Linked DNA regions of Homo sapiens: region 1 is linked to region 2. Evidence: fine-mapped expression QTL. A gene starts in region 2. The other region holds a variant in brackets. All regions are shown on one strand. Distances are from middle to middle. Region 1 overlaps EGFR (epidermal growth factor receptor). Region 2 holds the start of EGFR-AS1 (EGFR antisense RNA 1).

Region 1 (16,591 bases), 65 kb before region 2:
AACATGCTTTCCCCATGCTGGGAATCGAAAGATTCTCCTAGGAAAAGAAAGGCTTGACAACATCGATTCAAAAAGGGCATGCATTTTCCTCATTTAAATAACTCTAATGTGCAAGTAGATCCCCTGACCTCAAGCTCAGAAGAGTCCAGGCCTTCACACCTTCTCTGCTTCTGCTCTGGGGCCAGCTATTGAGATTCCTGTGCCCACGCAATGCGCACATCCCACCCCTGGCCGCTGTCCACAAGAAATCCAGTTGCACCAAGCACCCCACTTTTTGCACCTCTCATTTATGTACTCCTAAGAGCCTCACCACAACTCCCTTCTAAAAACATGAGTTCCTGACTGGGAATTCGATGCTGCCCAGGCAGCTTTGCTCAGAGGGAGCAGCCTTCTAGAAATGTTTCAAGTAAACTTTCAAGTATAACTAAATTCAAAAAAAACACATACACACACACACACACACACAAGTCAAAGGTGTGTAATTTGGCCAATATCACAAACCAATTAGCCCTTTGTAAGTGGCACCCAGATCAGGACAGCTGACCATACCAGCACCCTAGAAGCACCCCGTGCTGCCTCCTGGGACAGGGCTACCACCATCCTAAGGCCAGCACGATGGGCCAGCTTTGCCTGCTGTTGAATTTTGCTTACATAGAATCCTCCAGTAGGTACTCCTTTGGGTCAGGTTCTTTCACTCAACATTATGTGTTGATATTTTTCCATGCTGTGCTGCAAAATTGTATTTCTTGCATTCCATAACTGGGCAGTTCCATCATAGGAGAATACCACACTGCGTTCGTCCATTCTACCGCCAATGGACATATGGGTTCTTTCTCTTTTCTTGCAGTTACAAGTTTATGAATATTGTCCCACGTGTCCCTGGTGAACTTTTGTTTGCATTTCTGTTGGGTACCTCAGAGTGGCGTTGCTGGGTCAGAGGGTACTGGTCGCTTTAGTAGCTTTGAAAGATATTGCCAAAACATTTTCCAGCGCAGTTATAGCAAATTATACACCACCAGCAGTAGAAAACATCTCCTAATTGCTCACAGTAAACCCCCAAAGATTGCCACATACATCTTCCATATCAATTACTTAACTATTCAGCAAATTTGAAGGGAAATATATTTAATCTTTTTATTCAAATAGTTTATAAAGTGGAATAGAGATGTGGGTAAAAGTTGTCTTGCCACCTTTTTAGATCGGTAAAAGTTTGTTGAATGCAGGCAAGAAAAGATGAGAAATAATGGTACCCAATGAAAGACATAGCAGTCTACAAGGAGGGGCATTTCCCGGGGTGGGGGGGACCCACACTCTGTAACTCCCACATTCAATTAGCATGTTATAGGTAAGCTGCAGAAAACGAGGCAGCTTGTCAAAGAGGAACGGCTCTTGGCCATGGTTGCTGCCCTAGGAGGATATTTGATACTAGCAGAGCTGGGGCAACCCTGGAGGAAACCACCTGGAATGATGGGAGAACTCCTCCAGGGAACATGGCCCTTTAATAGATCTCTGTTATAAAAAATAATCCCAAAGCAGCCACCAGGGCATACTGCTGCGATCAAGTCCTAGGCGGTATTCCCTTCTGCGCCATAGACCCTGTGCAGAGTGCCCTCAACGAAGGAGCAAGGAAGACCAAGTCTCCCGAGGGTTTGCATATGTGTATGTGATTCTGCAGTCATGGTGAATGACACAGTCAGGGCTGCGGAAAAGCATTGGTAAAGTGTATATTTGAGGCTTCAGAAGTTTGAAAAGGCTAGATTTCCTAGGCCAAAACACTGAAAATTTGCAATTAGAACTTCAGTGCTGATGCTGGGAAGACTGGAGTTAGTTTGAGACATGCACCTGTGCAGAACTGGGCCCCCAGAAAAGGAGAAGGAAGGGAATCCAGACCAGAGTAGGGCCTGACACCACTCAGACTCGGCGTGTCTATAAATTAGAATTGCGTTACAATTACACTTTGACATTTTAGTGGTTTTTAAAGTGCCCAGCACAAGTTAATTTTTCATTAATGAATCCTTTATTCATAAAATGCTTAGATGGAGATTACCCTTTTGAGCATTTTGCCAGTGCTTCTGAAATTAATGGGGACCTCCTGTTGGAGGACACAGTCTGTTGCAATAGGTGACCACTGCTCTGAATCTATGTCACCTCTCCAGGACCACGGGCACAACCATCACCTGAGGCATGTTGGAGATGCAGATGGTCAGGCCCTCCTAGAATCTCAGAATCTGCATTTTAGCAAAGTCCTGGGTAATTCCTATGTCCATTGGAGTTTGAGAAGCACTGGTAATCTCAAATACTTTAAAAGATTACTAGAGTAAGATAGGCTCAGTAGGTACCTGAAGGCACCATCCCAAAGACCAGAGTGGTAGAAGCAGGTGGACCAGCCTCTGAACACATTTCTCCCCCACTCCCCGGCTGTGTGGAAGGTTGCCACCTTTGGGGTAGTCATTCAACAAACACGTGTCAACTGTCCACTATGTGTCAGGCCACCACTGGGCACTGGCTGTGGCTAGCTGGATAGACACCATTTCTGCCCTCCAGAAATGTCATGTCCACTGGCACATGACAAGTCACTAAGTCATTCAGAGCCATGGGTGACAGCTCCAGGGGCCGACAAAGGAGCTGTGATCTCACAGATCCACAGAGAAGTGTCCCAGGGCGGGCGGGAACCAGGACTGCACAGGGAGGGGTGAAGTGACACATAAGAAGTCAGCCCATCAGCCTGAAATGCTCCCCCAAATCTTCCCATTCAGTGTTTTCTCAGTAGCAAACTCGTGGGAAAATTGGTTATTTTACTTAAAAAACTCATACTAGAAAGCTAGTTTAACTTTAAAAATAAATTTTAAAAACATTTTTATTAACAAATCCTACCTTTCCTCCAAAGTCAAGGAGAAAAGAATAGAAGTGAACAATGGACCAAGTAAGCCTAAAACTCTGCTCTTTCCCCTGCTCATTTTACAGTTCAAGTGCCATTCAATTTATCCTGGCAAGAAGAGGAAGGCATCATCAAGACCTTAATTTTCTAATACATCTGATCTGAGAAGAATGTGAAAGCTATAAAATTAATTTTTGATCAATAACTACAGGCCTTTTGAGAGAGTGCCCTCCTAATGAATTGAGTACCTATTTCTCCATACACAGTGTCTATCATGACCTACAAACCCTTTTCCCATGAGGTGTAACAGAGAGAGATTACAGCCTTGGAACTGGATGTCAGACTCTCCTGGTTTAAGACAATAAGCCATGACATAGAGCCTGAAACCAACACAATCTTCCGAGTGGTTCCAGAAACATATAGGGGATAATGTTGGCTCTGATGCTGTACATCCCCAACAACCATCAACTATTTGGAAACTAGAATTTCAGCATAATTGGAGTTGGTGTTACCCTAGCAAATGCTGTGGGAAGAGAGTCTCACTGTGTATCTTCTCCTGTTTAAAGCCTGAATTTGTTCAGAATGTAATATCTCTGTTTAGCCACTCTACTGAAACTGATCTAGGAAATGTTCAAAAAAAGGTATCCCAAGGATCCCTTTGTAGCTACATCTGTGGGATTCCCCTCGCTCTGGCGTGGCCTGGCCCCTCTGCATTTGACAATACGGTCCTATGCTTTTGTCTTCCTGGGCTGCGTGAACCCACCCTGCCCTGGTTCACCTCTCCTCTTGACCCATCCTTATCAGTGTCTTGAAAGGTCCTTCTATTGGAGGACACATTCTGTTGCAGCAGGTGACCACTGCCCCAAATCTGTTTCACCTCCCCAGGGCCATGGGCACAACCATCCCTGGAGTGTGTTAGAGATGCAGTTGGCCAGGTCCTCCAAAATCTCAGAATCTGCATTTTTGCAAAGTCCTGGGTAACTCCTATGTCCATGAGAGTTTGAGAAGTACTGGTCTCATGAGTTCCTGACATACAAATAGTGCTGAGGCCAGTATGCTGACTGGGTAGCCAGATACAAGTGAAAACCTTCCTGTTTTTTGCAAACCTGGATGGACCCGAGGCCGCTGACGTGGGCCAGGACAAGCTACTCTTTTTCAGTGTTTCTGTTGCATCGCTGTGTCTCTCTGTGATCAGGTGCTGCCCTCCCTGGCAGGAGGACTGCAGACAGGATGACCAAGAGCACTCTACACAGCCTGCTCTCCAGTGTTGGGGGACGCCACCCACCCTCGTGGTTCCTGTTCATCTGCCTACACGTGGAGGGCCCAAGAGGGCTAATATGTGACTATCTCCACTTCCTGGTACCCTGTGTGAATAACTTCACTTACTAAAGGGATGTTGAGCAACTTTATTAATAATGAAGAAAGCACTTTGGTTTGACAAATAATCACTCCATTTTTTCATTTGAAAGTTAACTCTTGTTAGTAGAGAAAGCAATGTATTACAACCACAAGGACGTTTACATGGAAATGAACCATCTGCAAAGCATCCCCCATTTTCCTTTTAAATCAGCCAATGGGTGGTGGTGGGAGAAATATTCACCAGAGTATTTAACATCTATCCCCCTTCCTAGACTGTCAGCTCCATCCGGGCGGAGACTGTTGGTATCTCCACAGCACACACAGGGCCTGGCACACATCCGGGGCTCAGTGAGCACTTGCTGAATGGTGAACAGATTAGCTCTCCTGGGAACGTTGTTGACACATCTCATAACACTGGTTTGGAGTGGAGGGCATTCATCGGGCTGCATATTCCTATTTTTAATTGTATTCTCCACTGGTTACAGCACCTACAGTTATAAAGACATTGTTAACATTGCTTATAGGAAGACATTTGATGGAAATGAGTCCAAAGGCATTACGGTTAGAAACTGGCCAGGTGTCATTTTTGAGAGATTAGATAACTGTTTTCCGGTAGAGTGAATTGCCTGTTTGTTGCAAGTTGGGACTTTGCTGGGCTGGTTTACAGGGCCAAGGGGAAAGAGATAAGTGGATCTTCTAGTGAGAGGTCATCTGTTTTGAAAGCCTGGAAGATTCCATGAACTAAATCCAAGTCTTACAACACAGGGAAGTGTGTCATACTGTGCAGGGATGAAGTCTCCAATTTAGCATGAAAACAAGAGCTCCTCACACTGTCCTCTTCAGAAAGCCCATACAATCCAAACTTCTGAATGCTTAGCTGCTTACAACCATACATAGATTGAGGGATAAAACTCTGATATGGAAGAGAAGGTAAACATTTTTTGGCAGACATTCCCAGGAAAAGGCGGCTCTCTTCTCTCATTGCTGCTGCTCTTTCAGAATCCATTTCAACAGAGGAGGAGTCAATGGGAGCCCCGTGCCTCTGGCAGATATCATATGGCGTTTCAGTGGCATTGTGTGTTACCCTTCTTAGGTAACAGCTCAGCCATTAGAAGAATGTCCTACACACCTTCTCATTTTCTGTGATGAGAGGAATGTGAGGTACTGCCCTTCGAGAGCTGTCATTTGTCCTAGTAGCCAGCAGCGTGACTGTGCTGTCTTCTGCTCTGTCTCCCTGTCAGCCTTCTGCCCAGCCACCACCACTATAGTTTTGTTCTCTCCATTGGAACTCCTGGTTCAGAGAATTACCATAAAAAACAGACCCCTAGACATACAACACTCTATCACATAATGGTGACTTTGTCTTCTATTTTGGATTACTGAGCTTTCTTGGGTAACTTCCACTAAATCGAAGTTAATATTAGAAGAACTTCCTCTTACTAGAATCGAAAAGCATTTAAGTGATGCAGTCAAGTTTGTACCATAAGTAATTCAGTCATTTAACAAATATATATGGCCTCTGTGCGACAGTGACCTTGACTGGGAATGAAGCTGTCCCATGTGGGGCCTGTTCTTCAAAGGCAGTTCCCTGCTGCCCAGTTCAGTCCAGTGGATCTGGGCATCTCTCTTTAATCCGCATTAGGGGCTCTTTACTGATTCTTCACTATCCAAAAAGACTTGGAGGGGAGACCTGAGCCCACTTCTGGAAGGAAATGATAACAATTTATTTAGATAATCTTTGTGCAACAAGTCAATTCACTGAAGAGATCTGCTCTCTAGGAGCCTCTGTGACCCCACCATAACTGGGAAGGCTCTACCTCTCCAGTCTTCGGGCCACATTTCTCTCTGGCCTGCTGTCTTCCCAGCACTCTCAGCCTTGCTCATGGAGCACTCTAGTCCTCCGTCGACCTTGGCCTTTGGTAACGTGATTTTTCACCTGGCAGCTCCCATCTGGTCTCACTCCCTCTTTTTGTCCAGTCTGCATGACACAGCCTCACATCGTTAGTGTTCCCTCACTCCCCTCTTACTGCCCAACCTGCAAAGTCCATGCCTGGGCCAGTGCAGCATGTGTCCTCAATGGGCTGCTGGTGGCAGTGGGGGGAACCGCACAGCCACGCTGTGTGCTGCTGAAGAAATGCACAGCCTCCTACCCTCGCCCTCAAGAGGCAGCCATGGCTGCGCATTTCTGCCCTTCTGAGCTCCGCTCACTTTTGGCAGCAGCCGTTCCAACCTGCATGGGATCTTCACTCTCTCACAGATGTGCTGACTCCTCCTGCTGCCTCCCCTCTCTGTGCCTTCTCACTCTCTGTTCCCTTTGCCCTTTCTCCCCTTTTCTCCTCTGCCTACCTCCAAGCCATCCATCACAGGACAGCTCAAGCATCAGATCCTCTGGGACACTTTCCTTAGTTGTTCAGTCTGATGAGGTGTCCCTCATCCTCTCTTAGCTGAAAATCAGCAGCTGCCTCAACTTCTTTTCCAGCATGTCTCATGAGTATTGCCACAACAGCATCTGTCACAATGTGGGGTAGTGGCTGACTTGCTTTTCTGCCATTCAACTGAGTTCCCTCAGTGCTGGGGCCAGCGTGCAGTGTCTTGTATTCAGTATATAGCTGATTAATTGATGAATTGATTAATTAATGGTTCACACTAGCACAGTGCAACCTTCAATGCAAAGATCTCATCAAAATAATTCACATGGTGGGATATTTTAGAAGGATGACCAGGCTAGTTTGTAGTAAGAAAAAATCAACAAGACTAGGTCAGGAATTCTTTTTTTGTCTACAGGCTTGCTATAGAAGATATTGAAAATCATCTACCTAATTACCTTTATTTTATCAGGTTGTGTATTAAATATCACGTCTGGGGGAAGAAAATGTGATATGTGATTACAGACCTTTCCTGGTACAACATAGTACGTTTCAGATTAACTCAAGGTATTGTGGTGATATTGCGGTCAAAGCCAGGTGATTAAAGAGTCATTCTTTGAAACAAATATCTGTGCAATCAATTAAGAAATTAATTTGCAAATTTTATTTGCTTAGAGTAATTGATATATCATTCCTTTTACAAACAAATATAAAGAAAACTTAACTAAAAATACTGCATATCTCTTTCAGATTATATATCCCAGAAAGGATATATTTTTCTCCTTTCTGGTCTTCCTTTTTGGTGTAGCATCTGTAGGAAATGCATTTCTTCATAGCTAAGTGTACCTCCTTGTGAAATATCTTCAGAGTCTACTGGTGCACATAAGCAATTGCTGGCAGCAGCTTGAGGGTCTCCATCTCACATTTATCATATGCCTTATTGCATGAGGCTTTGCAAGAGGAGGTCTAGAGCTACAATATCTCATGGATATGAATGTCAATTCAAATCCCAGTGGCAGTTTATGAGGGGGAAAGCCTAGAAGAGAAGAAACCTAGAGGAATCAAGCAGGAGGGGAGAGTAATAAAAGACTAGAGCAGCAGGTTTTTCTTAACTCAAACTAGAATTAAATCTCTGTGTGTGTGTGCATGTGAATGTGCCCGTATGTGCATGCATGCACGTGTGTAAATGGATGTGTGTGTGTGTGCATGTGTGTGCAAGTAAGTGTGTATACGTGTGTGGGCATGTATTGTGTACATGTATGTGTGTTTTATGCATCTGTTTGCAAGTATGTGTGTATGCACATAAAAGTGTGAATGTACATGTGTGCTTGGTGTATGTGTGTGTATTAATGTATGCGTGTAGTTCTAGAGTCTAGTTAGAGAAAGTGCATAAAGAAATAGGGAAATTAACAAGAAAGCTATAGCTTAAATTATAGGAAAAACTTTTCTCCCTATCAGTCATGGTTTTAAAATGTTCAGACTTGATATGTTTCCCAGTGCTATTGTCAGAAAATGTCCCTATGACATTCCATACTACTTCAATCAAATCTAAAACCTTTGTTCCAACATGTTTTATTGATATGAGTATATTTCAAATTTCTACCAGGTTTTTGGAGAGGTATTTTGGCCATAAAATTGACTAAATTATTCAAAATAAAAAATGAATAAGCCTGGGCCAAGGCTTGGAGACTTGCTTAACTCAGTTCTTAAATTTTCAGATTTTCAAAATTACAAATTTAAGCTCTAAAATCATGGTGCTGTGTATGATATTCTTTGATTGCAACTTATGGTTGAAAAACTATAGAGGGCTTTATGCTAAGAGTTGTGGATCTTAGGATTTTCATGAAATCTGCATTATCATCATCTGCAAGTTTAGATGGGGCATAACTGATCCAAAGGATGGATCCCTCGGGGGCAATTCAACTGGCTGATTCCAGCCAAGATGACAACAGTCAGGATCCGTTCCCTTCTGATCATCCATTGGGTGCCCTGATTTCCTCTACAGCCCTAGCTGAAAGACCAGACACTATCTCAGGCTGGCTGCCCCACATGCCTTGCTCCACACCAAATTCACAGTCTATAAACCTGAGCCTCCAGTGCTCCTACTACCATACTCACTCGAACATTCCCGATTCTGACCTGGAGATGTCAACAGCTACTTGATGCCACTCTCTTCTATCTTTCTGTAGCTAAGCCATCCCCAAGTTTGTCGATTCACCCTCTTTAACC[C/T]CTGTCGGGGTGTCCATTGTGCCCCTTCACCCTGCCATCTCCCTGGTGCACTGTTTTGCAAAGTTCAGCATACATGAGCGTCACCTGGGAACCTTAATAAAGTGCAGATGTTGATTCAGCAAATCTGGGATGCCCTCGGGCTGCATTTCCAGCAGGCTCCTGGGGATGTCCCCGCTGCTGTGCTGCAGATGACACTCTCAGTGGTGGGACTCCAGGCTCTGCTGTCGCCTCCTAGGGGTTTCTCCACACTCCCTGGAGGCCTAATGGGCCCTTCTCCACATGGCAGTAAGATCTGTTTTTGTGTTTGTGTTTCAAGTTGGGAGAAGGAGATTATTTAATACTAAAATGTGCAACATGGGATTGAGAAAACTAATTATTAGTCATAAGTTGAGTATGCAACATTGAAACCACATGCTTTAAAAAATTATAAGAAAAAATCATAGTATTTGAAAGTTACAAGCTATTATGGCTAACTCCATTTATCTCAGTTAGAGAAGAAGAGTCACCTGTCACCAGGGCACTGCCAGAAGCCAGGCTCATTTCCAACAGCACTGGGTGCTCCAGCTTTGGGGTGCCAGCTCCTCCCATAAAGCAAACACATACCTAGGGATGATATTTCTTTGCAAGGGCTCTGCCCTACAGCTTGTACATCTCAAGAAGTTATGTAATTAAACTGTCTGTTTTGAGAAAATTGTAGATTCACACATACTAGCTGTAAGAAATGATGCGGATAAATCCAGCGTACCAGCTTTCCCCACGGAGACGTCTTGCAGCGTCACAGCCAGGATGAGGCATTGACCCAGGCGAAGTCCAGAGCACCTGTGCGCTACAGGGCCCCTTGCACTGTGCTGTCACAGACACGCCCACTTCCAGATGCCATCTAGGACCCCCTCCAAAAAGCAGAGGCATTCTTAAAAACACACATCTGCACATGTTCCTCTTCATTTGAATCTGTCAGTGGCTTCTCAGTGCCTTTCAAATGAAATCTAAAGTCCTTACAAGCCTTGCAGCAGGAACCTCTCCATCCCACTTCCCCTCACACTCTCAGCTTCATCTCTGCTAGGCTCTGTTCAGCCAGGCAGCCTTTCACAGTCCCTCTCCTCCTGCCCTGCCAGGAAGGTCCCCTGCCCCCAACTCTTCCCCACATGTGGCGGGGCCCCGCTTGTCCTTAGAAGCCCAGCTGAACTGCTTCCTGAAGGAACCCCTCCAGAACCTCTCAGACCAGGTCAGGTTTCTGCACTCTTAGATCATCCCCATGGCATAATCACAGTTGTGATGTTGTGATGATTCAGTGAATGTCTGTCTCCCCACTGGATGGTAAGCTTCCTGAGGGCAGGAACAGCATTGGTTCCAGTCAATGCTATGTCCCAGGACTGTTCGTTTTTGCACATACTAATCCTAAAAGGACGATGACAACAGCAACCACTTACATGACCTAGATGCTCTTCTGGGTGTTGTGCAAATATTAACAATTTAATCCTTGCAACAATCCACGAGGGAGGCATTCTTCTACTCCCACTTAACAGACAAGGACAGTGAAGCTAGTAAAGAGAAGTCATTTGCCCAAGGGGACCCCACTACTGTTGGCAGAGCTGGGTGCAAACGCAGGCTTGTGAAGCCAGGACCCATGCATTCAAAGACCATGCCAGGTGCCCCCACTGCACACCTCATCCCCACATACCAGTGAGGGGGAGAGAAATGCTCCTGCACTGCCTCTGATTAACTGCTTTCCTAGAAGTCACACATATAAAAGGGATTTAATTCTAGTGGGATTGAATCTCAATAGTTTCCTTATTAGGTTGATTTCTGTTAATAGTTTAAGTACTGGATATACATGAATTAGAAAATCTAGATTATTAGCAAATGCAAACTATAAAGTATTTTATAAATGTTATCTTGTTTGTCAGGGGATGAGTGAGATATTCATTATACAAAAAGTAGTGTGGATTTTGAGGTAGAAGGTTTACTAAGGATCATACCGTAGTATGAAATAGCCACAAACATTCAGTGAAACCAAACACCCCCGCTTAACCTCAAACTAACACTAAATAATAAGGAATAGACTTGGGGGCAGTGCAAGTGTATTTCTAATGGTGAAAACCATTCCCCAGTGAAAACTAATGTACCATCTAGTTAATAAGAGCTCCTCTGACCCACGCACATCAATACTTACATCCCAATGGTGATGTGACATTTTGGGTTTTGTATTTCTTTTGCAAATTGAGCTAGCATTTTTGATGAGTGGCAGGGCTCTGCTACCCAACCTTTGGACAGTTTCCAAGCATAAAATCACAATTCCAGATAATTCTGTCACAAAGATCTGGGTCTCATTAGGAAGGAGAGGAAGCTGGGAGATGATCCAGTCCAACCTCCCCCAAACCAAACATCACGGCCTTCTCAGTTGTTTCACCAACCATCTAAATGTTTTAGTAATTCTAAAAATTGATGCGCTTTTTCCACGAAAGGAAGTGTTACCACATTTTCCAAGTGGGAGGCATCTATATCCTTACTCCTTCATCCTCTCCTTCCCACCCCCTCACCCCCCACCACCCACACAACATCTGCAATTCTTAAACTAAAGCACAAATTGTTACAAAAGTTAATTGCACTTTCAAAGGAATGCTTGTATAGAAACTTTCTCGGCTTCAAGGAAAAATAATACGCTTTGAATGGCTGTTCAACAGCATAGAAATTAGCTGAGTAGAAGGCACTCATATAGCCATTAGGACCAATCCTTTCTGCCGCCAACACCCCCCTTATAAAGACTTGACAGTGGGCCAGAATAAACAACTTCAGGATGAATTCAGTTGAGACACAAAGTACACACTTCCAGTTTTTCCCTTCTCTGGTTACTGGCCTCAATAACCAGGCAGTCAACTTAAAAAGAAAAACAAAAGCTTGCTTCAGATTACAGATTGCAGACTTCTTATAATATGTCCATTTCACCAGGCCCCGCTCTCAGCCCCGGGAAAGGCCACTGGAAACCACCTCACATGGTAGGGCCTTGCGGGAGCCAGTAATAACCTTATCTCCGTCAACATGTTCTGTCAGATTGAATGGGGCAGCCAGAGAAGCCAGAGTTGGCACAGGAACCAAAACAAAGGCTTCCCATCCTCCTGGAGTGAGCGGTTGAGCCTGGATTGGTGCTTAGACCTATAATGGGTGCAAGCAGCGTTCATTCATAGTGGCTTTCTAGACCCAGGGACTTGGCCCCAGCCCTGCTGCTCCACTCCTCTTCTTGCTTCATTACCACGAGTCTCCTAGACCACCGAACGATGCCTGCATTTGAAAGACACTTCTGCTGATCAAAGCAGCTGATGTGTCCCTTTGCGGTTCATTTCTAATTGTCCCCAAGGAGGAGAAATTCAAATAGTTTATTACTGAGAGTTAAAGAAATCCACTGAAATATTCTTTGGTCTAAAATTACTGTCATGGCGGAGCAGCTTCACCTTAGTCATTGCCCTTAAATATGAAAGCTATTTAAGAAAGTTTGCCCTTAAATATGAAAGCTATTTTAAAAAGTTTAATGAAAGAAGAGAATCACAAAACATTTTCAAAAAGCAAAAGAAAACCTAAGAGAAAAGTTGAAAGTAGGAATTTTTTAAAGAATATACGACGTGTGTTCTGTGACTCACCCCTGCAAGTTATTTGTGTGTATTCCCTTGCATAGTAATTAATAATGAAGCAAAGCATGGCAATGATATCTTTTCTTGTCTAGTATTCTAGAAGACTCCATGTTTTTGGAAAATATCACTCTAGTTAGATCTCAAATATATTCAATCAGAAAATGGGTTTTCTACAAGATTCTATATCTGTAGTCAATAGCAAATATAATTCTATTAAGCTAGTAGGATGTGATAGGAAACTAAAACCTAGGGGAGACCAAAGCAAGGAAAAATACTTCCTCATCCAAACTTGAGAGCAATTTACCGTCAGGCCTACTATTAATAGATGGAATACAGATTCCATTTTCATTACTCAACTGCCATATTCATTATTACACTGTACAGAAAAGGGAATCACATCTGTTGAAAACTTATATATGATGTTCATGCATGCATTCCAGTAATTCAACAATTTTTATTTATCTTTTTATTGCTTGCTAATTTTTCAAAATAATAAGCTAAAGAAAACAAAATGTTTGTGCTGTTCTCAGATGACATGTTATCTCTTTAAAGGACAAAATGTGCTGTGAAATAATAGAATGCTTTCAGCACTCAAGTGTGAGTGAGTGCTCATACATGAGAGAAAGCCGTGGGGACTACAGAAGCCAAGAAGCAGATCTAGCTGGGGAGGCCTTTGCAGAGGATGTAGTTGTGTGGAGAGGCCACACACGTGGAATTCCCAGGAGGGCTGTGGAGGCGGGGAATCTGCAGGAAAGCACTGGGGTGAGAAACGTGATGAGAAACAATTATTGTCTTAAAATATCTGCAGGGCTGTAAGGTAGAGAAGCAATACGTTGCATCTGTGTTAAGTCAAACAAAATTATCAAGGGACTGGTTTCAGCTTAACATAAGGAACAATTATGTGATAGGGTTGTCAATAACAAGAGTAGACTGCTTCTTCACACACTCCTAGTCACTCAGAATGGTCCAGGAGGAGTGGACAACCATTTGGTAGAGTATGGGAAGGCAGGGGCCCTGGGTGGGAGTGGTGAGGGTAGGGAGTGAGTATCCCAATCTAGAAGTAAATTGTGCCCAGCACGGAGCTGCAACACTGCCCTGCACACAAACACACACAAATAACAATCCCCAGCCCCTGCATTTCCCTCTCCGGTTTCAGGACCTTGTATCTTACTTCAATTCCTTTATTTAGCTGATGATGAAATAGGAAGAGCTTAGCACTAAGAAAATCCTTTTGGAGTTTGGCCTTGGGGGAAAATGAATCACTCCAACCAGGTCTGTCTTCTAGAAAGTATAGGATGAAAGGGCTCCTCATCACATACTTCCTGACCTCCTGCTAGGCCTTTCCCTAAAACAGGGGCTGGCAAAGCACAACCTGTGGGTCACGCCTAGCCTGCCACCTGTTTTTGCAAATAAAGTTTTATTGGAGCATGACTATATGTATTTGCTTACAGTCTGTGGCTGCGTTCACACTATCCCAGCAGAGTTGAATAATTGGGACAGGGACCATATGATGGGTGAAGCTGAAAACATTTACTCTCTGGCTGTATTCAGAGGAGGTTTACTGAGCCCTTCTCTGAGACATGGCAAGCGCTGCTTCAGGCTCATGCTTCACTAGATTCAGGCCTGGGGCAGTAAAGAGCCAGCTCAGGATAGCACTCCCGACTCACTCATTTTTTCAGGCAGGGGAGCCATCTAATGTCAAGTGCCTACGTGCAGGAACTGGTCTGTTAATTAGCAGCTCTCCTCATGGAAGGGATAATATATTCTAGAAACAGGAGTGCGGCCCTATTGCAAGAATGTCCTGAGCCAAAATTAAGATTCTTCTATGGCAGAAACTTGGCTGGGGCTTCTCCTGAGTTAACTTGGTAGTTGTTAGTGATTTTTGAGTCAGTTTTTCCTTGTCAACGACCCCAGGAATGAGTTTGGGATTACAGGGTAGCCAGGGAAAGGGAAAGCTTCACGCCCGCCCCCGGGACAAGGTCTGTCTTCACACTGCTACATCCCTTCACCCACTTTAAAATGAAACTTAAAAGGAGGATTTCAGTTGAGTAGGAAGTGAGAAGAGGGCTCATTTTAAAACAAGCGTTAAATGAAAACCCACACACACTCAGAGCACACAAATCCAACCACGCTTACAAAACCATCACAGAGGGTCAGGCGAGGCCCTTTTCTAAATGAAAAAGAACAGGGGTGGAGACTGTTCTGAGAGCATGCTGGGTTCCCTGAAGGGAATTCTCAGCTGTATGTGCCCCGCACAGGATCCCTGCTAGACACAAGGCCAGCTGCCTTCCTTTCAAGCCGCAGACGCATCCCTGTGTCCAGGCGGGCTGGTCAGCTGCGGTCAGCACCAGCTTCCCCGCTCCATGGTGAGGTCATCACAACATGTGAGCAGGAGGGCAGGCCGGCAACCTCTGAGTGCTTAGAGAAAGGGACGGGATTCCTCCTGTGCAACCCCTCTAGTCTCACTCAGACTCAAGTCTGACTAAGGGGCCAGGTGCTTTGACCAGGGACTCTCCCCTCTCACTTCCCTCCCAGGAGTCACAGGTACATGAGTCCTTGTTTTACAAATGAAGAAAACAGACCCAACATGATTAAGATGTTGCCTTCATAGGGGTGGCACCAGGATTCCAAACCATGGACTCCACTGAGCCCAGTGCCCACTGACATGTGCCAGTAACAGTGCAGCTGCCTGTGGTTCTGTCGACTAAACTGCCGGCAGAGGCTGGCTTTCCACCTTCTTTTTTTTTTTTTCACTCTTCAAACACTTTATGACATGAACATAAACTACTGGCTGCATCGTTCTGCTGACAACATGACATGTTTCTATAACTTGAAAAAAGCAAGCAGTGGACTGCTCATTGGTAAAATTGAGTCAGTAATCTTTTAGGAAGGTTATTTTTCTTCCTTTTACTGCTTCTCATCTGTTCCCCGCAGTAAAGAGGACAAGATGACGACGACTCAGGGAACACCTCCAGCCTGAAGCAGCACCATGCGAGCTTAGACCTTAGGGTCGGCTTAGAAACCACAGGCGGGGCGGCTTGGGCCCCTCGGACACTCCCTCTCGAAGCTGCTTCTCCCCAAGCTACCCCAAAGGCACTGAGCGCCCTCTGCCCCCCAGCAATTCAATTCACTGGCTGTCCTGCTCCTGTCAGTACTGAGAGTTGCATGTTTGACCCTCGGGGGAAAAGTCCAGAGGCCCTGGGGTGTCCAGCATGCTCTGAGGTCCCTGCTGCTGACCCCTTGCGCTGTCAGCATTCAGAGACATTCACACAGCACAGCCTCCCAGGCTAACAGCTGTCATGGAACAGTGGAGCAGCTAGACGTGGCCATTCTGTGGCCCAGTGCTGCAGAGGTCAAAGGGACAAGCGCAGGGAGCATCTTTGCTTTCAGAAAAAAAAAAAAAAAAAAGAAGCACACTGGTGCACTGACCTGCTCCTGGTGTCTTTGTGATTGCTCTTTTCTTTCGATTTTTGGTTGTCTTTTTTTTTTTGAAAGAGGGGCTTTTATGCTTTTTTCCTAATGTTCATGGGTAAACCAATGTAAATGTGTGTATGTTTATAGAGATGGCTTTAAATCGCAATTCTGCAGTAGAGATTGATTTTTTAAAAAACATGGGTAAAAATTGAAGAAAAATTTTAAAAGAACATTTAAACCATCTTGGGCTAGGGGTGGATATGCACCACCCCACGGAAGCCAAACAAAATCTCTCTGCAGATAAACATTTGCAAAAAGAATTTCCAATCCCAATTTTTGAGTCAGAGATCTTTTATTTCCTTGCAAATTACATATCTGTTTCAGGATTTTTGACTATAAGAAGAATGAATGAAGATGTGTTTCTTACAGATAACTATGAACAAACCAGGAAGGATAATAACTTGTATCCCCCAATTCGAATCCAGAGGATGGGAAGGCATAAAAAAAAGAAATGGAAGAAACTTTATTTTTAGTGGTAAATGGTGGGACTATGTATTTTACGTATGGTGAAGTCACCAAGCCCAACACTTGGCACTTGTAGGCAAGGTAGTCTTCTAATCTGAATGTGAAGTATTATGTTTTCATTTGCTTGGTAATGAGGAATATTGGTGCTTTCGTCCCAGTTCTCGAGCTGACTGACTTCTCTTTCTGACGTGTGT
Region 2 (8,000 bases):
ATGGATTTTGTTCTCCATATGCAAAACCATCTCAGGAGCTTGCGGAGACACCACTTGCTTACTAGCCAGAAAGAGCAGGTGCCTCCTAAATTCCCCACACAGGAGCTCACAGTGGCTTTCATGCACTGGGATTAAGTTAGACTTAAGAAAGCCTGTCTACTCTTCCTGGGATTTACAAGCCAGCTAGTAAATCCCAGAATAAATCACACGGCACAGTCATCCAAAGATCCCGTCATCCGTGCCGTTTGGAAAGCCCTGCTCCTGTGCCACCCTCTCCCCGTGGAGCCTCCCATGCCCAGGACTGCAGAGTCCTGCCATTCAGACTGCAACTCATCTCACATTCTTCCAAACTATTTGGACAACAGAGCTTTCTCATCACCTAATGCAGATTACAGTCTCACAGAATTGAGTGTTCAGGCAGACACTGATGTGGTTCTGTAGTACAGCAAACAATATCAGTTTACAGTCCTGAGGCCAGGCCTGGTGAACAACGCACGGTAGCGGTGGGGCAGGGTTCTCAGAATGAAACTGGCTTACACATGGCACTCTCTGACCACAACTGTATAAGCACCAAACTACACTTAGTTCCATCTATGAGGTAAAATTTAATGCAGATGAACATCAAAGAAAACGTCAAAGGCTCCTTTTTACAAGTACGTGGGCTACTTAATTTGGTCCAAGTCCATTTTAAAAAGCCCTAGGTGCTTTCACGGCTCTGCTACTGACAAGAAGCCCCAGTGCCTGTGAGCTGCTAATGGGAGGGAGAGGAAGATGAGCTGAGTGGGCCGGGCTATCCCGTCCACACCGGGAGACAGGGAAGGAGACTCCAAGCTGGTGGTGCCAGCACATTCCAGGCCACTCAGGCCTATTCCTAGGTGCCAGGTCACGAAAACCACGCTGACAGATCGTGCTGTGTGCGTGTCATAGCACACAAGCAGGACTGTGAGAGAGTGAAAGTGACACTGGGTGGAGCACTGAGGAAGGGCCACAGTGTGTTGGTGGAGATAGGCTGTCATGGAGAAGAGACCCTGGCTTGCTCTACATTGCTTCCAATGCAACTGCAAGGCAGGTCCCAGAGGGCTCCGGCCTTCGTCATCCAGGTTTGCTCCCTCCCCTCATGGCTTTCCCATCCTCAGATGAGGACTCGGCAGAGCCTACCCCTGCTGACTAACTGTGGCCCCAGGGTGGTGACTCAGCCCTGCACCTCCTGATCCCGTCTGCACTGGGCCAGAGAGGATGACTTACCCAGCACGTTCACATCACACAGCTTTGTGGATTCCTAGGTCCAAGGACCAGAGATTTCAGTTATGTGAGTTATTTTTTTTATTTGTTCTTGCGTATTCCACAAAGGGTCGCAGCTAAACTTAACCTAATGATCACTTTAGTATATCACTAAAAAGACAAAGCTCACAGTGCTGTTGAAGCACATTCATCATCTTTAGACATTTTGACTAGTTATTTCTTAAGCATTTACCTGCTAGTGTTAAGCATCACATGAAATACATATAGAAGTAAGACAAAATTTCTTATCTCCCCAAGTTTGCCAACAAATACAGAGCAGGAAGGGAAGCAGGTCAGAGCAGGAGGCGCAGCTATAGTGAGGCCACCATGCAAGGCACAGGGAGGGTGAGCTCCAAGTTTGAATGGAATGGGTCTGTCAGCCAAGCCCCCTGGCTCTGGGAAGATAGCAGTGAACAAGCCAGATGGCCCCTCACCCTCCAGAGCCGTGAGTCCTGCAGACCAAACAGCGTGACAGGTCCTTTCCCTGTCCAGGAGGCCTCTGTGGGTGAGAGTTGGCTGCGGACAGGGCGTGAAGGCACTTGAGGGTGGGGAAGTGACTCTGACTGGGAGATGCTGAGGACAGGGAGGAAACCACCAGATAAGGGACACTGGGGAGGAGGGGTGGACCCCTCAGGGCCAAGCACATGGAGCCTCATCACAAAGGCAAGATGGTGGCCAAATTCAAGGTCGCTGCAAAAGGAATGGAGAAGAGAGAATAGATTTGGCATTTGGAGGAAATGGTGACAATCATGAGCACCTACCCGGGACTCTCCATGGGTGCTATCTCTACATAAACTCATTCCACCCTCTGATTAATCCATTCTACATATGGGGAAACAAAGGCATGCGGTGTTTACGTCACTTGCCAAGATCTCAGGATTTGATCCAGGTGGCCTGGTTCCATGGTGCAGCCTCTCAGCCTGCATGGATGCCCCAGCTCAGAGCATGACTCTCAGGACAGGGGTCCCAGCAGCCCTCCCTCCCTGAGCAGCAGGGTGCCCGTGCTGCACCACTTCTGTCTAGGAATAGGACATTCTGACACTTTCCTGCCTCTTCCGAGGTCTAGCACTTACTCTATGCCTGCCTGGGAAGGTGGCAAGCTGGCCTGAGGAACAGACTCTTCCATTTTTTAGGGAGCTCAAGGCCACAGATGCTCTGAGATCTGGAGTCCAGAGACAGGAGCGGAGGCTTCTCCTGGTGACCACTCTGCTTAAAAACTTCATCAGATCCGTAGTTTCAGAGCCCCCCTGAACCCCATCCCTTACCTCTACCAGTTGCAGGTGGGTCTCTGGGGTGGGGCTGCCCTCCCCACCAGCACCCCAAGGGCTAAAAGGTTGAGGGGAGAACACCATCATTTGTACAGGGGGATCCTGGAAGATGAGGCCTGAGAAAGCCCTGCGGGGCCCCTCACCTTCTCCCTAGCTGTGGCCAAGAGTGTCTGGCCTTGCCTGCCTCAGGACCAGCCCAAAGTGGAGGTGAGAGGTGAGCCCCAGCCCCCAGGGGAAGGGTGATGGTGGTCTTGGTCTCAGCATGGTTCTGGTAGAGGTGGGTTATTTTGAAGATGATGAACCTTAAGCCTCTTTCTGATCTTGCTTTAAATAAATACTTCTGAACAACAGCAACAACAGAATAGTGTTGATAGGAAAGCCCTCCACTCCACCAGAACCACGCGGCCTTCTCGTCCTCCCCTCCTCCACTTCCTTCCTAAGTCACTGCTCCATGAGCTCTTCCACAGGAGATTTACAAAATAGAACACAAACAATCCAGTTCCCGCCTCTCACTCTGAACTCCTCCCAAGACTCGTGGGGTGCGGCAGCCCCTGGGAACACCCAGCCCTTCAAGGTCAAACACAGCCCCCGCCCCTCACTCTGGGGTACCCTGCCAGAATAAGCCCCGACAGCCATGTGGAGCAGAGCCTTCTTTTTTGTAAGTGGAAGTTCCAGGCTGGCTTTTCAAATCCCCTTTTAACCTCAGTGCTGTATTTCAAAATTCATTCCAGTTTTCCTGTAGTAATTAACAAAAATAAATATTTTAATTTCAATTAAAGTGAGGGTCTCGGAGAAGAAGCAGGAACTGAGTTTCCTGAGAGGCCCCGCTGAGGCTTTGTTGATATTTCTTCCTGCGACCTCTGCTCGGACCCTGGGAGCTCACAGGCCGTATCGCAGCTCTTATCTTTGGGGACCAGTTAAAGCATAACTGCGCCAGGCACAGAGTTGTCCTTTCAAATGTGCCGGCAGTGGGACGGAGACCCATGCGTCAAGTCTCCTCTAAGTTCACATGGGATTCTCTCCTTGTCCCAAAGCTGTCTCTGACTTAAAACCCTCCAACTGATTACCTGAATTCCAGAATATGTCCTGTGCTCTCTGCCCTTTCCCACGCCTTTGGTGAAGACCGGTGTTCTGAGGAAACAGACACTGTGTAGAAATGGCTCAGGTCCTTTAAAGCCCTGGTGTGAGGAGTGGGGAAGGGCTGGGCCAGAGGTCAGCTGGATTTGTTAGATTGACAGAGTGACGCGGACTTCCCCAGAGGCACGGGACCAAGGTGCATGCTCACGCTGTCTCATGCTCTCACACATAATGTGTGTGTGTGTGTGTGTGTATATATATATACACATATACATATATATATATACACACATATGCATATATATAAAACCCCAAGCAGCCTCTGGCTTAGCAGGTGCATTTCCCAGCAGGGCAATTAAAGCCATGGTCCCAGTAGTGGTCTTGGGGTCTCAGGGTATTTGGTCTGTGCAGCCACATGCTTCAGTCTCTGGACCCCAGGTCATCTAACGAGGTGGTCGTGTGGGGACTGGGATAGAAAAGGTGTCTGCACGGACGTGTGTGAAAGGGCTGGCACATCGCCAGTGCTCAGCACTGTCAGCTGCTATCACCAGTCATTCAATCATTCATTCATTCAGTTGTTCATTCTTCAACAGGCCGTTTTAAAAATGTGCCCAGTATACCAAAATCTCCGCTAAGCATTTAAAGAGGCAGAATGAAAGTTAGCAGTGGTGGTGAAACGAAGCTGGGAATGTGCTCTGAGGGCCTCCTTGTGGGCTTAATGAATATGTAGAAACCACGCATTTTAAATAGAGAGGGAGAAAGGGAGAGGTTCCTGGTCCTCTGCATGGGGACTTGTGTGTGGCTCTTTACTGTAGGCCTGTGCCACTCCTGCTCAACAGCTACCACAGAGGACGCCTTCAACAAATGTGAAGAACGAACAAAAGGTACAAATGTGAAGAACGAACAGGGTAGAAAGAAAGGAGAAAGCAAGGGTGAGGGTGAGAAATCAAGGGACAGAGAAGAGAGAAGAGGAGATAGCCTGGGAGTTCACACAGCCAAGAAGGTAGACACTCAGTTGAACCAGCAAGAGGCTGAGCCTAACTCTCCCTTTCGAATGGGCAGGAGTTCATGATATTTAATAAACAGAGGCCTTGCTCTGTAAGAGACAGGGTACCAGGCAGAGAGCAAGTCAGCATCGCAGGAGTCAAACGAGGCAGACAGCGGGGGCAGGGAGCTTGCCTCTGAAGGAGACCCAGGCTGCCAGAGTAGCAGGGAGTCTGGGCCAGTCCTCTTTTGGGAAGCGCTTCCTCGGCTTCTGCCCCCCCTCTCCTCTCCCTTTCCACCCACCATCCTGACATAATACTTCCTAATCTGGAAGTGTTGTCCAGAGAAGAACCTGCTCATTTCCTCTTAAGTAGGCAGGGAAGCACTAACGTCCAGCAGCATCGGAAACCCGTAGGAGCGCTCTCGGCAGTGCAGGGTGAGGGGACAGTCCATGTAGTCATGAGACGTGGGTGTCAGGCAAGCGTCTCTTTTCCAAAAGAGAAAAACATTAAAGGCCTCACAAACGGCGCCCAAAGACTAATTCTGCATAGCATCTTTGCGAGACCCTAGGTTCTTATGATGACTGGTTTTGCCTGAGAAAGAAAAAATTTTAATTTTGCTCTGACATGCCAATTCAACAAATCATTTTCACATAATATTCATGCAAAAAAAAAACAATTTGCCAGAAAACTTGGGAATCCATCCACATCTACAGCTTTTCCCTGCAGTCACACTACAGTGGGATCCCTCCATACAGGAGCGGCAGAGTGGAGCAGGCTAGAGATGCCTGTTTGTTTCTGTTTGCTGCACCGCAGCAAGCATTTCTGTCGTGCCCACTCTGTACTAGAAAGTACATGAACATCAGCCATAAAGGGAACTAGAAAGGTGGCCCACCCTCTTGGTGGAGAGAGAAGAGAGTGTGGTAGAAACAATAATAAGAAGTCTGCAGAACTTGACCCCTCCCAGCCTCTCCCACCTGCCAGCCTGGCCCTTGCAGAGAGATGCAGGCTGCCATTCTTAGGCCAAAGCCTGGGACAGTTGGGCTCAGCAAGGTAGGCATCCGTCAAGCAAGGAGGAGCAGGGGTCAGCAGTGACCCCAGCAGCCAGCAGGGAGAAAGGTGCATGTGACAAGGACACCAGAGGCCGTGGGTCAGGATCAGCCAGGGTCAGGGTAGCATTTCTAGGAATTCACTCTGTTGGGCGCTGTGCTGGCTGCTTCTCACATATTATTCCTTTCTTACTCTCAGAGCAGAGATTTCAATTGCAGCGAGATTGTGGAGGCAGCCAGGGAGGTGGGGAGGGTGGTGTCTTCTAAAAGCATTTTCAGTATCCATGTGGTTTCAGTAATAATAATAATAATAAACCAGTGAAAAGTAAAACAGGACAAAAATCTTCATAGGCAGTGAACCATATCAGAGAGTCCAAGAAAGCACAATGAGAGTGTGGCTTAAAAACCCTGAACGACATTCCTTTGCACCAGCTTGGTGAGGAGGGCATGGTCCCCGCCACCCCCCACCCCCACTTTGCAGATAAACCACATGCAGGAAGGTCAGCCTGGCAAGTCCAGTAAGTTCAAGCCCAGGTCTCAACTGGGCAGCAGAGCTCCTGCTCTTCTTTGTCCTCATATACGAGCACCTCTGGACTTAAAACTTGAGGAACTGGATGGAGAAAAGTTAATGGTCAGCAGCGGGTTACATCTTCTTTCATGCGCCTTTCCATTCTTTGGATCAGTAGTCACTAACGTTCGCCAGCCATAAGTCCTCGACGTGGAGAGGCTCAGAGCCTGGCATGAACATGACCCTGAATTCGGATGCAGAGCTTCTTCCCATGATGATCTGTCCCTCACAGCAGGGTCTTCTCTGTTTCAGGGCATGAACTACTTGGAGGACCGTCGCTTGGTGCACCGCGACCTGGCAGCCAGGAACGTACTGGTGAAAACACCGCAGCATGTCAAGATCACAGATTTTGGGCTGGCCAAACTGCTGGGTGCGGAAGAGAAAGAATACCATGCAGAAGGAGGCAAAGTAAGGAGGTGGCTTTAGGTCAGCCAGCATTTTCCTGACACCAGGGACCAGGCTGCCTTCCCACTAGCTGTATTGTTTAACACATGCAGGGGAGGATGCTCTCCAGACATTCTGGGTGAGCTCGCAGCAGCTGCTGCTGGCAGCTGGGTCCAGCCAGGGTCTCCTGGTAGTGTGAGCCAGAGCTGCTTTGGGAACAGTACTTGCTGGGACAGTGAATGAGGATGTTATCCCCAGGTGATCATTAGCAAATGTTAGGTTTCAGTCTCTCCCTGCAGGATATATAAGTCCCCTTCAATAGCGCAATTGGGAAAGGTCACAGCTGCCTTGGTGGTCCACTGCTGTCAAGGACACCTAAGGAACAGGAAAGGCCCCATGCGGACCCGAGCTCCCAGGGCTGTCTGTGGCTCGTGGCTGGGACAGGCAGCAATGGAGTCCTTCTCTCCCTTCACTGGCTCGGTTTCTCTTAGGGACCCTCACAGCACTAAGGGGTGCGCGTCCCCTGTCAGGCCCTCGAATGCCCTCCCACAGCCAGGCCCCTCTGAGGTTTCACTCTGGCCTGCTTGGCTCCTAGCAGCCACCAACCCATGATGCTGGGCCCTGAAAACACACGCAGACCTGGATGAGTGAGGCCACTGGGCACAACCAGGGCTCCCAGCTCACCAGAGCAGCCTGGGACACAGAGGGTGCTCAGAAACCTACCAGAGCAGCCCTGAACTCCGTCAGACTGAAATCCCCTGTTGCCGGGAGGAGGCGCCGGGCCTGGGGGACGGGTCCTGGGGTGATCTGGCTCGTCTGTGTGTGTCACTCGTAATTAGGTCCAGAGTGAGTTAACTTTTTCCAACAGAGGGAAACTAATAGTTGTCTCACTGCCTCATCTCTCACCATCCCAAGGTGCCTATCAAGTGGATGGCATTGGAATCAATTTTACACAGAATCTATACCCACCAGAGTGATGTCTGGAGCTACGGTGAGTCATAATCCTGATGCTAATGAGTTTGTACTGAGGCCAAGCTGGCTTTTATTGTTAGTTAATTTACATTATATCCTCTGACATGCAAGTATTTTCTTTCGAGATAATGACTAATGATAATGTAATCATTGCTGTCTATCTATTGTACTGAGAAAACACGGCAGAGGAAATCGAGTCCAGCTGCCGTCCAAAAGTCACTGGAGATTGCAATGAGCTCGTCTGGCAGGGTGGGGGGTATGGGAGGGAAAGAGCTTAGGAAACGGCTCTCCCTGCAAAGTCCAACCAAACTTTAACGTTAACCAAACCATTAATGTTGCCATGAATTTGAAGTGAACCAGAGGGAGGTGGCAGAAGAAGCTTAATGGGGAATAGTTCCGGTAGAGAAATGAGGCTTAA

Evidence for each region.
Region 1: its variant is fine-mapped to the expression of EGFR-AS1 in sun-exposed skin (GTEx, PIP 0.95).

The regions. Positions count from the first base shown.
Region 1 is chr7:55,116,092-55,132,682 of GRCh38, forward strand. All of the region lies in intron 1 of EGFR (epidermal growth factor receptor), which reads left to right. Among named protein-coding and RNA genes, the nearest start is that of EGFR-AS1, 65 kb to the right of the region's middle. RefSeq lists enhancers at 14,573-14,652, 14,663-14,822, 15,128-16,035, 16,549-16,591. The variant C/T (reference allele first, on the strand shown) is at 8,833.
Region 2 is chr7:55,185,241-55,193,240 of GRCh38, forward strand. EGFR-AS1 (EGFR antisense RNA 1) reads right to left here and starts at 3,709. Exons shown (of 2, transcript NR_047551.1): 1 at 3,617-3,709. EGFR (epidermal growth factor receptor) reads left to right here. Exons shown (of 28, transcript NM_005228.5): 21 at 6,479-6,634; 22 at 7,526-7,601. RefSeq lists enhancers at 361-1,134, 6,844-7,729.